3 linked regions of the Homo sapiens genome follow. The protein of the gene in region 1 purifies or fractionates together with the protein of each later gene. This does not show direct contact. Each region holds a gene or a part of one and is shown in the gene's direction. Other genes may lie near its edges. The genes, in order: IVD, ETFB and PGD.

Region 1 (3,162 bases):
GGATGAACTAGACATTGTAAGGTTGGAGAGCAAAGCGTGCAAGTTGTGGGGGCAGAAGGGAAAGAGGTTGCTATTTGTAGTTAGACCTTCTGGTCCGAAGAAGCTGCTGGAAGGTAATAAGCATTGGAGTAAATGGTGCCTTGGGAGCCATGCCTTTCGGAGGCAGTGATGGCCACTTCGGGGTGTCATGCGGGCTGTGGAACAGCCACTCTGTGGCCCTAACTCCCACACCTGCCCCCATCTCCATCATCCTGAGTAAATCCCATCTCCTCTCCATGCCCCTGCTTCCTCATCCTTGGCTGTCTTGTTGCCATTGCTGACCTGCTTTTGGTAACTGAGAGAGTGTTCCAGCATGTTGACCTGTGACATCCCTTTGTGCCCAGTTGATGCAGGGGAAGATGGCTGACATGTACACCCGCCTCATGGCGTGTCGGCAGTATGTCTACAATGTCGCCAAGGCCTGCGATGAGGGCCATTGCACTGCTAAGGTGAGGGCCAGCCTCAGTCGGGGAGAGGCGGGGGCAGTGGACCAGCTGCTGAGACTTGCTGTCTGCGTGCCTCGCAGGGCCCTGCTGACCCCAGCTTCCTCCCGTAGGACTGTGCAGGTGTGATTCTTTACTCAGCTGAGTGTGCCACACAGGTAGCCCTGGACGGCATTCAGTGTTTTGGTGAGTGATCCCCACTTCCCAGTCCCGGGGCTCCCTCACTCCTGGGGCCTGTGGCTGCTTCAGAAAGCAGTTTCAGGGCGGGCGTGGTGGCTCACACCTATAATCCCAGCACTTTGGGAGGCCGAGGTAGGCAGATCACCTGAGGTCAGGAGTTCAAGACCAGCCTGGCCAACATGGTGAAACCGCATGCCGGGCATGATGGTGCATGCCTGTAATCCCAGCTACTTGGGAGGCTGAGGCAGGAGAATCGCTTGAACCCGGGAGGCAGAGGTTGCAGTGAACAAAGATTGCACCATTGCACTCCAGCCTAGGTGACAGAGCGAGAGGCTGTCTCAAAAAAAAGCAATTTCCTCTCCACTTCTCCACTCCTCACTATGTGCTTATGCTAGGCCCAGCTGAGCTGGGACCTTCGGGCTCTTTCTGTCCCAGTTACAAGGAGGAAATGGAAAGCAAATGAGAAAACTGCTAGATGCCAGGAGTTGCTGCTGCCTTCGGCAACACCCCCCTCTCATCCTCCCCGCCTCATAGATGCTAGGAAATGGGAAAGGGAGATGTGGCTGGGCACAGTGGCTCACACCTGTAATTCCAACACTTTAGGAGACTGAGGCCAGTGAATCACCTGAGATCAGGAGTTTGAGACCAGCCTGGCCAACATGGTGAAACCCTGTTTCTACTAAAAATACAAAAAAAAATTAGCCAAGTGTGGTGGCAGGAGCCTGTAATCCCAGCTATTTGGAAGGCTGAGGCTGGAGAATCTCTTGAACCCAGGAGGCGGAGGTTGCAGTGACCGGAGATCGCGCCATTGCACTCCAGCCTGAGTGACAAGAGTGAAACTCCGTCTCGGAAAAAAAAAAAAAAAAAAAGGCCGGGCACGGTGGCTCACACCTGTAATCCCAGCACTTTGGGAGGCCGAGGCAGGTGGATCACCTGAGGTCAGGAGTTCGAGACCAGCCTGACCAACGTGGTGAAACCCCATCTCTACTAAAAATACAAAAATTAGCTGGGTGCAGTGGTGCGCGCCTGTAATCCCAGCTACTCAGGAGGCTGAGGCAGGAGAATCACTTGAACCTTGGATGCGGAGGTTGCAGAGAGCCAATATCATGCCACTGCACTCCAGCCTAGGCCACAGAGCATGACTCCAAAAAAAAAAAAAAAAAAGCTAAATGGAAATTTCTAGAAATAGTTCATAAGTTTCAAATCCACACCATCCTGAATAGCTTGAAGTGTTGTGCCATGCTGCTCTGTCATGTTTGGTACGTGAATCGTCCCTTTGTGCAGCCTATCTATGCTATGTGGGCTACCTGCCCGTTAGTAGTCACCTAGGGTATCCAATCAGCTGTCCTGATATCAGAGTGCCTGTGTTCAAGTAACTCTTATTTTGCTCAGTGGCCCCAGATTGCAAGAGTAGTGATGCTGGCATGTCATAATAGTTCTATTTTAGTATTTGTTATTATTGTTGATCTGTTACTATGCCTAGCTCATAAATTAAACTTTCTCATAAGTATGTATGTATAGGGAAAAAAACAACATATATATGGGGTTCGGTACTATCTACGGTTTCAGGCATCCACTGGGGTCTTGGAATGTATCCTCCAAGGATAAGGAAGGACTAGTGTATTCCCCACACCCCTCCCTCTTGCTACCTTTTGCTGCTTTTCTTTAATCACCCTCTCCTCCTGTGGCCTGTTTCTATATACTTGGCATTCTGTTTGCTTTCTTTGTTTTGTCAATCACTTCCTTTCTTCTCTGCCCAAACCCTGGTTGCAGGTGGCAATGGCTACATCAATGACTTTCCCATGGGCCGCTTTCTTCGAGATGCCAAGCTGTATGAGATAGGGGCTGGGACCAGCGAGGTGAGGCGGCTGGTCATCGGCAGAGCCTTCAATGCAGACTTTCACTAGTCCTGAGACCCTTCGCCCCCTTTTCCTGCACCTAGTGGCCTTTCTTGGGAAGTAGAGATGTGGCGGCTTTCCCACCCTGCCCACAGCAGGCCCTCCTGCCCAGCTGCTCTTGTCAGCCCTCTGGCCTCTGGATGAGGTTGAGTTCTCCACAACAGCTCCCAAGCATCATGGGCCTCGCAGCCGGGCCTGTGCCACGGCTAGTGTTGTGTGATTTAAAATGGACTCAGCAGGAAGCATATTGTCTGGGGATTGTTGGGACAGGTTTTGGTGACTCTGTGCCCTTGCTCTCTAACTTCTGAGCCCACCTCCCAGGGTAGGCACCTGGGGGCATGCAGGTGCCCACCTCCCAGGGTAGGCACCTGGGGGCATGCAGGTACCCACCTCTTTCTCTTGGGTGAGGCTCTGGCAAGGAGATCTCTCTGCTCAAGCACAGCAGAATCATGGCCCCTCTCCATGAATTGGAACTTGGTACAGGTTAAGTATCCCTAATCCTGAAATCTGAAACACTTGTGGTTCCAAGCATTTTGGATAAGGCAAATTCAACTTTCAGTCTCTTTTCTGGGGGAAAAAAATAATAAACCTAGCCTAGCCAG
Region 2 (3,655 bases), on another chromosome or scaffold:
GGCCCAGGGCATTCACCACTCCAGGCTGAGCAGCTTGGGACTTTGCTGACCCTTCTGACAGAGAGTTTGAGCAGGGAGGACAGAGTCCCTCTGGGTGTTAGAAAGATCCTCTTGGGCCAGGCACGGTGGTTTACGCCTGTAATCTCAGCACTTTGGGAGGCCGAGGCCAGTGGATCACTTGAGGTCGAGAGTTTGAGATTAGCGTGGCCAACATGGTGAAACCCCATCTCTTCTAAAAATATAAAAATTAGCCGGGTGTGGTATCACCTGCCTGTAATCCCAGCTACTTGGGAGGCTGAGGCATGAGAATCACTGGAACCTGGGAGGCGGAGGTTGCAGTGATACAAGATCGCACCACTGCACTCCAGGCACCACTGCACTCCTGCCTGGGAGCAGAGCGAGACTCTGTCTCAAAAAGAAAAAAAGAAGAAAGATCCTTTTGGGTGAGTTTAGAGGCTGGGAGGCCGAGGTGATGGTCACATGGGGGAGAATGAGGCCTCAGCCAAAGGTGACAGGACAGAGCAGAGACATGATGTGGCAGGAGAGACTGGGCTTAGCATGGGGAGGGAGGGCAGGGAGGAGGCAAGGACAGTGCCTGGGTCTGCCTTGGTAACACAGGTAGGAAACCCAGGAAGAACAGGAGGTTAGAGGAGGATCCTACAAGGGGAGTGTGAAGAGCCCAGGAGACATCGATGCAGGTTCAGGAGACAGGCCTGGGCTTGAAACAAAGACTTGAGAATTTTGGAGGGCACTGGGGAGCTATGGGAGTTCTATGAGCAGAAGAGGGGTGGGATCAGCACTAGGTGCAGAAAGAGCCCCCCTGGGCTTTGAGAATGGACTGGAATGGGAAATTGGAGGCCAGGAGTTAGGGAAGGAGGTTAGGGCTGGGTGAGGACCCGACCAGAACCTTCCCTGCCACACTGGTGCTCCCCACTGAGATAGGGGTACATGGAGCTCATCTGTTCCCCCAGGAGACCCTCGGGCACCACCTCTGCTCAGGGGTAGCTCATCTCATTTGAGGGCAAACCTCATGGCCTCAACCAGGGAAGGGGCAGAAGAGGGACGTCAGAAGAGCCACAGGCAGATGGGAGTGAGAAGAGGCAGGGAATTAGGGATGAGGCTGAGAAGGAAGGCCAAAGACTGCAAGGTATGTCAAGCAGAGCACGGAGACAGCAGAGCACAGCAGGCTCAGGTAGAGCTGGGGCCCCCGGAGAGAGATGGGGATCCCAGGGCCAGGTCAGTTCTGGGACAAAGAGGAGGCTGATGGGTCCAGGTAGGTCACTGGGTGTCCTGCCCAGCCCTGAGAAAGTCAGAAGAAAACAGAGAGAGATTATCAACAGCAGGGGCATCAGAGTACAGATCAGTCAACTGTGGCCGAAGGGCCTACCCGGAGAACAGGCCAAAAAGGCAGGGCCTGGGTGGGGCTGCAGAGGCCGAGGTGCTGGAAGCATGGCCTTTGCAGCCCCCTGCATTTGCTGGTCGTTCTCAGACTCCGATGTCCTACCTGTCCTGGGCCAGGGACAGTTCCTGGGGCCAGGGCCTCCAGCTGGGGAAATGCCGGATGAACTGGTCAGGATGCTGTTTGTTCTAGGAAGCAGATTCACAACTCAAACTGGCTTAAGCCAGAAAGCGAATTTATTATCTCACGTAAATCAGGGGCTTCAGGCACAGCTTGATCCAGGGTCACATATGAGCTGTAGGCTCCCCTCTACCTTGTCTTCACTGTCTGCATCTCCAGGCTCAGATCCCACCAGCCCAGTGACCCCAGCAGAAAGAAAGGAGCATCTTTCCCAAGGGCCCCAGCAAACTCCCAGGGCTGACTCTTCTTTGGTGCAGCTTGAGTCATGTGCCCCTCCCTGAACCAATCACTGGGCTGGGGCTAGAATGTCCTTGCTGGCCCAGACCCTGTTCATGCAGCTGCCCAGGGGCCACATAGGGTGGGACTCCTGAGAGGCTTTATACAGAGGGCAGAGACTTGACGACAGGGATGCCAGGTGGCCCCACATGTCCCTGGACAAGTGGCTGCTTATCTCTGGGCCCAAGTGAGGGGATCGTTCTAGACCAAAAGTCAGTGAACTATGGCCCAGAGCGACCTCTGATTTGTAAATAAAGCTTTATTGGAACATCACCACATACATTCATTTACATATTATTTATGGCTGCCTGTGTGCTACAACAGCAGCGCTGAGTCACCGTGACAGAGACCGTATGACCTGCAGAGCCTGAGATATTTACTACATCTGTTCCACCATAGAAAAGGTTTGCCAACCCGACTGGCTGCGGTGACTCATGCCTGTAATCCCAGAGCTTTGGGGGATCATCTGAGGTCAGCAGTTCAAGACCAGCCTGGCCAACATGTTGAAACCCTGTCTCTACTGAAAATACAAAAATTAGCTGGGCGTGGTGTTGGGTGCCTGTAATCCCAGCTACTCAGGAGGCTGAGGCAGGAGAATTGCTTGAACCCAAGAGGCGGAGGTTGCAGTGAGCCAAGATTGTACCATTGCACTCCAGCCTGGGTGACAGAGCAAGACTCCGTCTCAAAAAGAAAAAAAAGAAAGAAAAAGTTTGCCAACCCCTGTTCTAGACAGAGGCCTGAATGGTCCATGAGCTCCACTGATTGTCATACAGTCTTCTGTCTCTCCCCATTCAGGCCATCGATGATGACTGTAACCAGACAGGGCAGATGACAGCTGGATTTCTTGACTGGCCACAGGTGAGACTGGAGTGGGGAGCACCTGCTGAGGGCCAGGCCCTCATCCCTCAAACTTCATTTCTGCCTCAAGGCCTTTGCATTTGCTGTTCTCTCCTCCTGGAACACTGTTCCCTCGGATTGCCTCATGGCTTTCTTGTTCCCCTCCTTGAGGTCTCTGCTGAGGTATCACCTCTTCAAAGGGGCCTTCCTTGCCATCCTACGTGAAATACTCATGCCCACCCGCTCAACTCTAGGTTCCCCAGTCCCCATCTCTGCCAGTCCAATAGAAATGCAGGCTGGGGCCAGGCATGGTGAGTCATGCCTGTAATCCCAGCACTTTGGGAGGCCGAGGCAGGTGGATTACTTGAGGTCAGGAGGAGTTTGAGACCAGCCTGGTCAACATGTTGAAACCTCGTCTCCACTAAAAATTTAAAAATTAGCTGGGTGTGGTGGCGTGCGCCTGTAGTCTCAGCTACTCAGGGGGCTGAGGGAGAATTGCTTGAACTTGGGAGGCGGAGGTTACAGTGAGGCAAGATCGCACGCCACTGCACTCCAGCCTGGCAACAGAGGGAGGCTCCGTCTCAAAAAAAGAAAAAAGAAATGCAGGCTTGGCACAGTGGCTCACACCTGTAGTCCTAGCACTTTGGGAGGCCACGGTGGGAGGATTACTTGAGCCCAGGAGTTCGAGACCAGCCTTGGCAACATAGTTAGACCCCATCTCTACCAAAAAAGAAAAGTTAGCTGGGTGTGATGGCACATGCCTGTAGTACCAGCCTCAGGAGGCTGAGGTGGGAGGATCCCTTGAGTTCAGGAGGTCAAGACTGCAGTGAGCTGTGATCATACCACTGTACTCCAGCCTAGGTGAAAGAGGGAAACCCTGTCTCAAAAGAAAAAAAAAAAAAGAAGCAAGGCACATAGACAAATTTAAAATTTTTCACAGCTACATAAAAAAGTAAAAAGAAA
Region 3 (2,629 bases), on another chromosome or scaffold:
AAAAAAAAAAATTAAGGTCCTCTAAATTGAATTTGAAATTTTACTCATGGACCAACACTGAGTATTCTACATAACAGTGGTTTTTATTTTATTTTACTGGTTTTAGAGACAGGGTCTCACTGTGTTGCCCAGGCTGGAGAGCAGTGGTGTGATCATGGCTCACTGTAGCCTTGAACTCCTGGGCTCAAGTGATCCTCCCACCTCAGCCTGCCAAAGTGCTGGGATTACAGGTGTTAGCCACCTTGCCCAGCCATAACAGTGGTTTCTATCTCTTCATTTTCCCTCAAAACTCCCTTTTGAATTTCATGTTAATCTTTGTGATTGAATACTCATGTTTGTATTGGAAGATTGTCTTAAGAGTTTTAGTTATCAAATTAACTGTTTAGAGCTTCTTATAAAAGTTCCTTCCGATCCATGTCAACTTTTGTGGCCTAAGGTTGAAACTTTCAGCTCTTTGTATAAACAGACTTTCCTGCTCCACCTTTCTTCTGGTTGCTGTGCGAACTTTGGTAATTTTCATGCGCATCCGTGTGAAAAGACCACCAAACAGGCTTTGTGTGAGCAATAAAGCTTTTTAATCACCTGGGTGCAGGCAGGTTGAGTCCGAAGAGTCAGCGAAGGGAGATAGGGGTGGGGCCATTTTATAGGATTTGGGCAGGTAGTGGAAAATTACAGTCAAAGGGGGTTTTTCTCTTACGGGCAGGGCCGAGGGGTCACAAGGTGCTCAGTTGGGGAGGTTCTGAGCCAGGAGAAGGAATGTCACAAGGTTAATCGCTCAGTTAAGGTGGGGCAGGAACAAATCACAATGGTGGAATGTCATCAGTAAAGGCAGGAACCAGCCATTTTCACTTCTTTTGTGATTCTTCACTTGCTTCAGGCCATCTGGATGTATACATGCAGGTCACAGGGGATATGATAGTTTAGCTTGGGCTCAGAGGCCTGACAGTAATCTGTTTCCTCTTCCCGATCTCCCCATGTAGGAGAAGCTGTCTTTGCTCGGTGCTTATCATCTCTGAAGGATGAGAGAATTCAAGCTAGCAAAAAGCTGAAGGGTCCCCAGAAGTTCCAGTTTGATGGTGATAAGAAATCATTCCTGGAGGACATTCGGAAGGTGGGACACAGTCCCTGGCAGTGGTCTTTGTTGGTCCTGCGGAAGGCAGTGGGGGTGGGGGTTGTGGTGGGAGAACACTCGAGGCCACAGGATGGCAGGTGGAATGAAGTTCAGCCTTGACTTGGATCTTGACTTACAATGTTTTCCTAGAATATTGGCCCTTCTGGGATCTCCACTGCTGATGAGAATAAGACTGGTAGACATAAGGCGGTCACTCTCCTAATGGCAATCCTAGTAGGTCTCTGTGTCACTCTTTAGGCACTCTACGCTTCCAAGATCATCTCTTACGCTCAAGGCTTTATGCTGCTAAGGCAGGCAGCCACCGAGTTTGGCTGGACTCTCAATTATGGTGGCATCGCCCTGATGTGGAGAGGGGGCTGCATCATTAGAAGGTAAGTGAGAGGCAGCCCAGGGTCCGACGGGAAGGACTCACACGGCTGTGCAGAAGTGCGATCTTAGGACACTTAGCTTGAGCAGTTTCCAGGGATGGGCACTTAGCCCCATCACTGGACACTGGCACAAGATAGGCTTAGATTATGTGGTTCCCTTCTTCACTGTACCTCAGTTGCTGTAACTAGATTGTCCACACTACACCTTTTTTTTTCTTTTGAGACCAAGTTTCGCTCTTATTGCCCAAACTGGAGTGCCATGATGCGATCTTGACTCACTGCAACCTCTGCCTCCCGGGTTCAAGTGATTCTCCTGCCTCAGCGTCCTAAGTAACTGGGATTACAAGGGCACGCCACCATGTCCGGCTAATTCTTTTGTATTTGTAGTGGAAACAGGGTTTCACCATGTTAGCCAGGCTGGTCTCGAACTCCTTGCCTTGGGTGATCTGCCCGCCTCAGCCTCCCAAAGTGCTGGGATTACAGGCGTGAGCCACTGCGCCCGGCTCCGCATTACACCTACTACACTACACCTTTTAAAGTACTTCTGTGAACTATCGTGCCCTCTGGCCTTGCCTCTTGGGAATTTTGCTCTGTATTTTCATTGAAAATGCCAAATCATAGAAAACGTAGCATTTCTACACATGACGTTACATCGTTCTCATGTTGGCTGAAGATTCATTTGATGAATCTGATTTTTCTGAAGTAGATGATTCTGGTGATTCAGATGATTCTAATATTAGTTCTCTTTAGAAATAACGCCAAGAATAGTTTTTATATTTTATTTTCATATTGAAAATCGTCAGATTTTCTTCAGCCTCAAAAAGCGTGTTTATGTAAAATTAAATGAGCGCTGGCAGCGAGCTGCACTTTTTTTCTAAACAGGAAAAGGGTTAACAGCTTGAAGAAATGAGAAATGTAACTTTGTTTCACTAGGGTATACATCGGCTTCCAGCTTACTTCCCTGTTAGAGTTAAGATTCATTGCATTTGGCCGGGCGCGGTGGCTCACACCTGTAATCCCAGCGTTTTGGGAGGCCGAGGCAGGCGGATCACGAGGTCAGGAGATCCAGACCATCCTGGCTAACACGGTGAAACCCTGTCTCTACTAAAAATACAAAAATTAGCCGGTT

Evidence for each region.
Region 2: the proteins of IVD (region 1) and ETFB purify together in Homo sapiens (affinity purification with western blotting; one study listed by BioGRID and IntAct). This does not show direct contact.
Region 3: the proteins of IVD (region 1) and PGD fractionate together in Homo sapiens (co-fractionation; one large-scale study listed by BioGRID). This does not show direct contact.

Annotation. Positions count from the first base shown.
Region 1 is NC_000015.10:40,415,695-40,418,856, forward strand, and holds part of IVD (isovaleryl-CoA dehydrogenase, mitochondrial isoform 1 precursor), read left to right. Parts: intron 1-383; coding exon 384-488; intron 489-595; coding exon 596-668; intron 669-2,435; coding exon 2,436-2,569; 3' UTR 2,570-3,162.
Region 2 is NC_000019.10:51,349,387-51,353,041, reverse strand, and holds part of ETFB (electron transfer flavoprotein subunit beta), read left to right. Parts: intron 1-2,650; coding exon 2,651-2,713; intron 2,714-3,655. UniProt on the Homo sapiens protein: Heterodimeric electron transfer flavoprotein that accepts electrons from several mitochondrial dehydrogenases, including acyl-CoA dehydrogenases, glutaryl-CoA and sarcosine dehydrogenase.
Region 3 is NC_000001.11:10,416,007-10,418,635, forward strand, and holds part of PGD (6-phosphogluconate dehydrogenase, decarboxylating), read left to right. Parts: intron 1-980; coding exon 981-1,111; intron 1,112-1,369; coding exon 1,370-1,503; intron 1,504-2,629. UniProt on the Homo sapiens protein: Catalyzes the oxidative decarboxylation of 6-phosphogluconate to ribulose 5-phosphate and CO(2), with concomitant reduction of NADP to NADPH.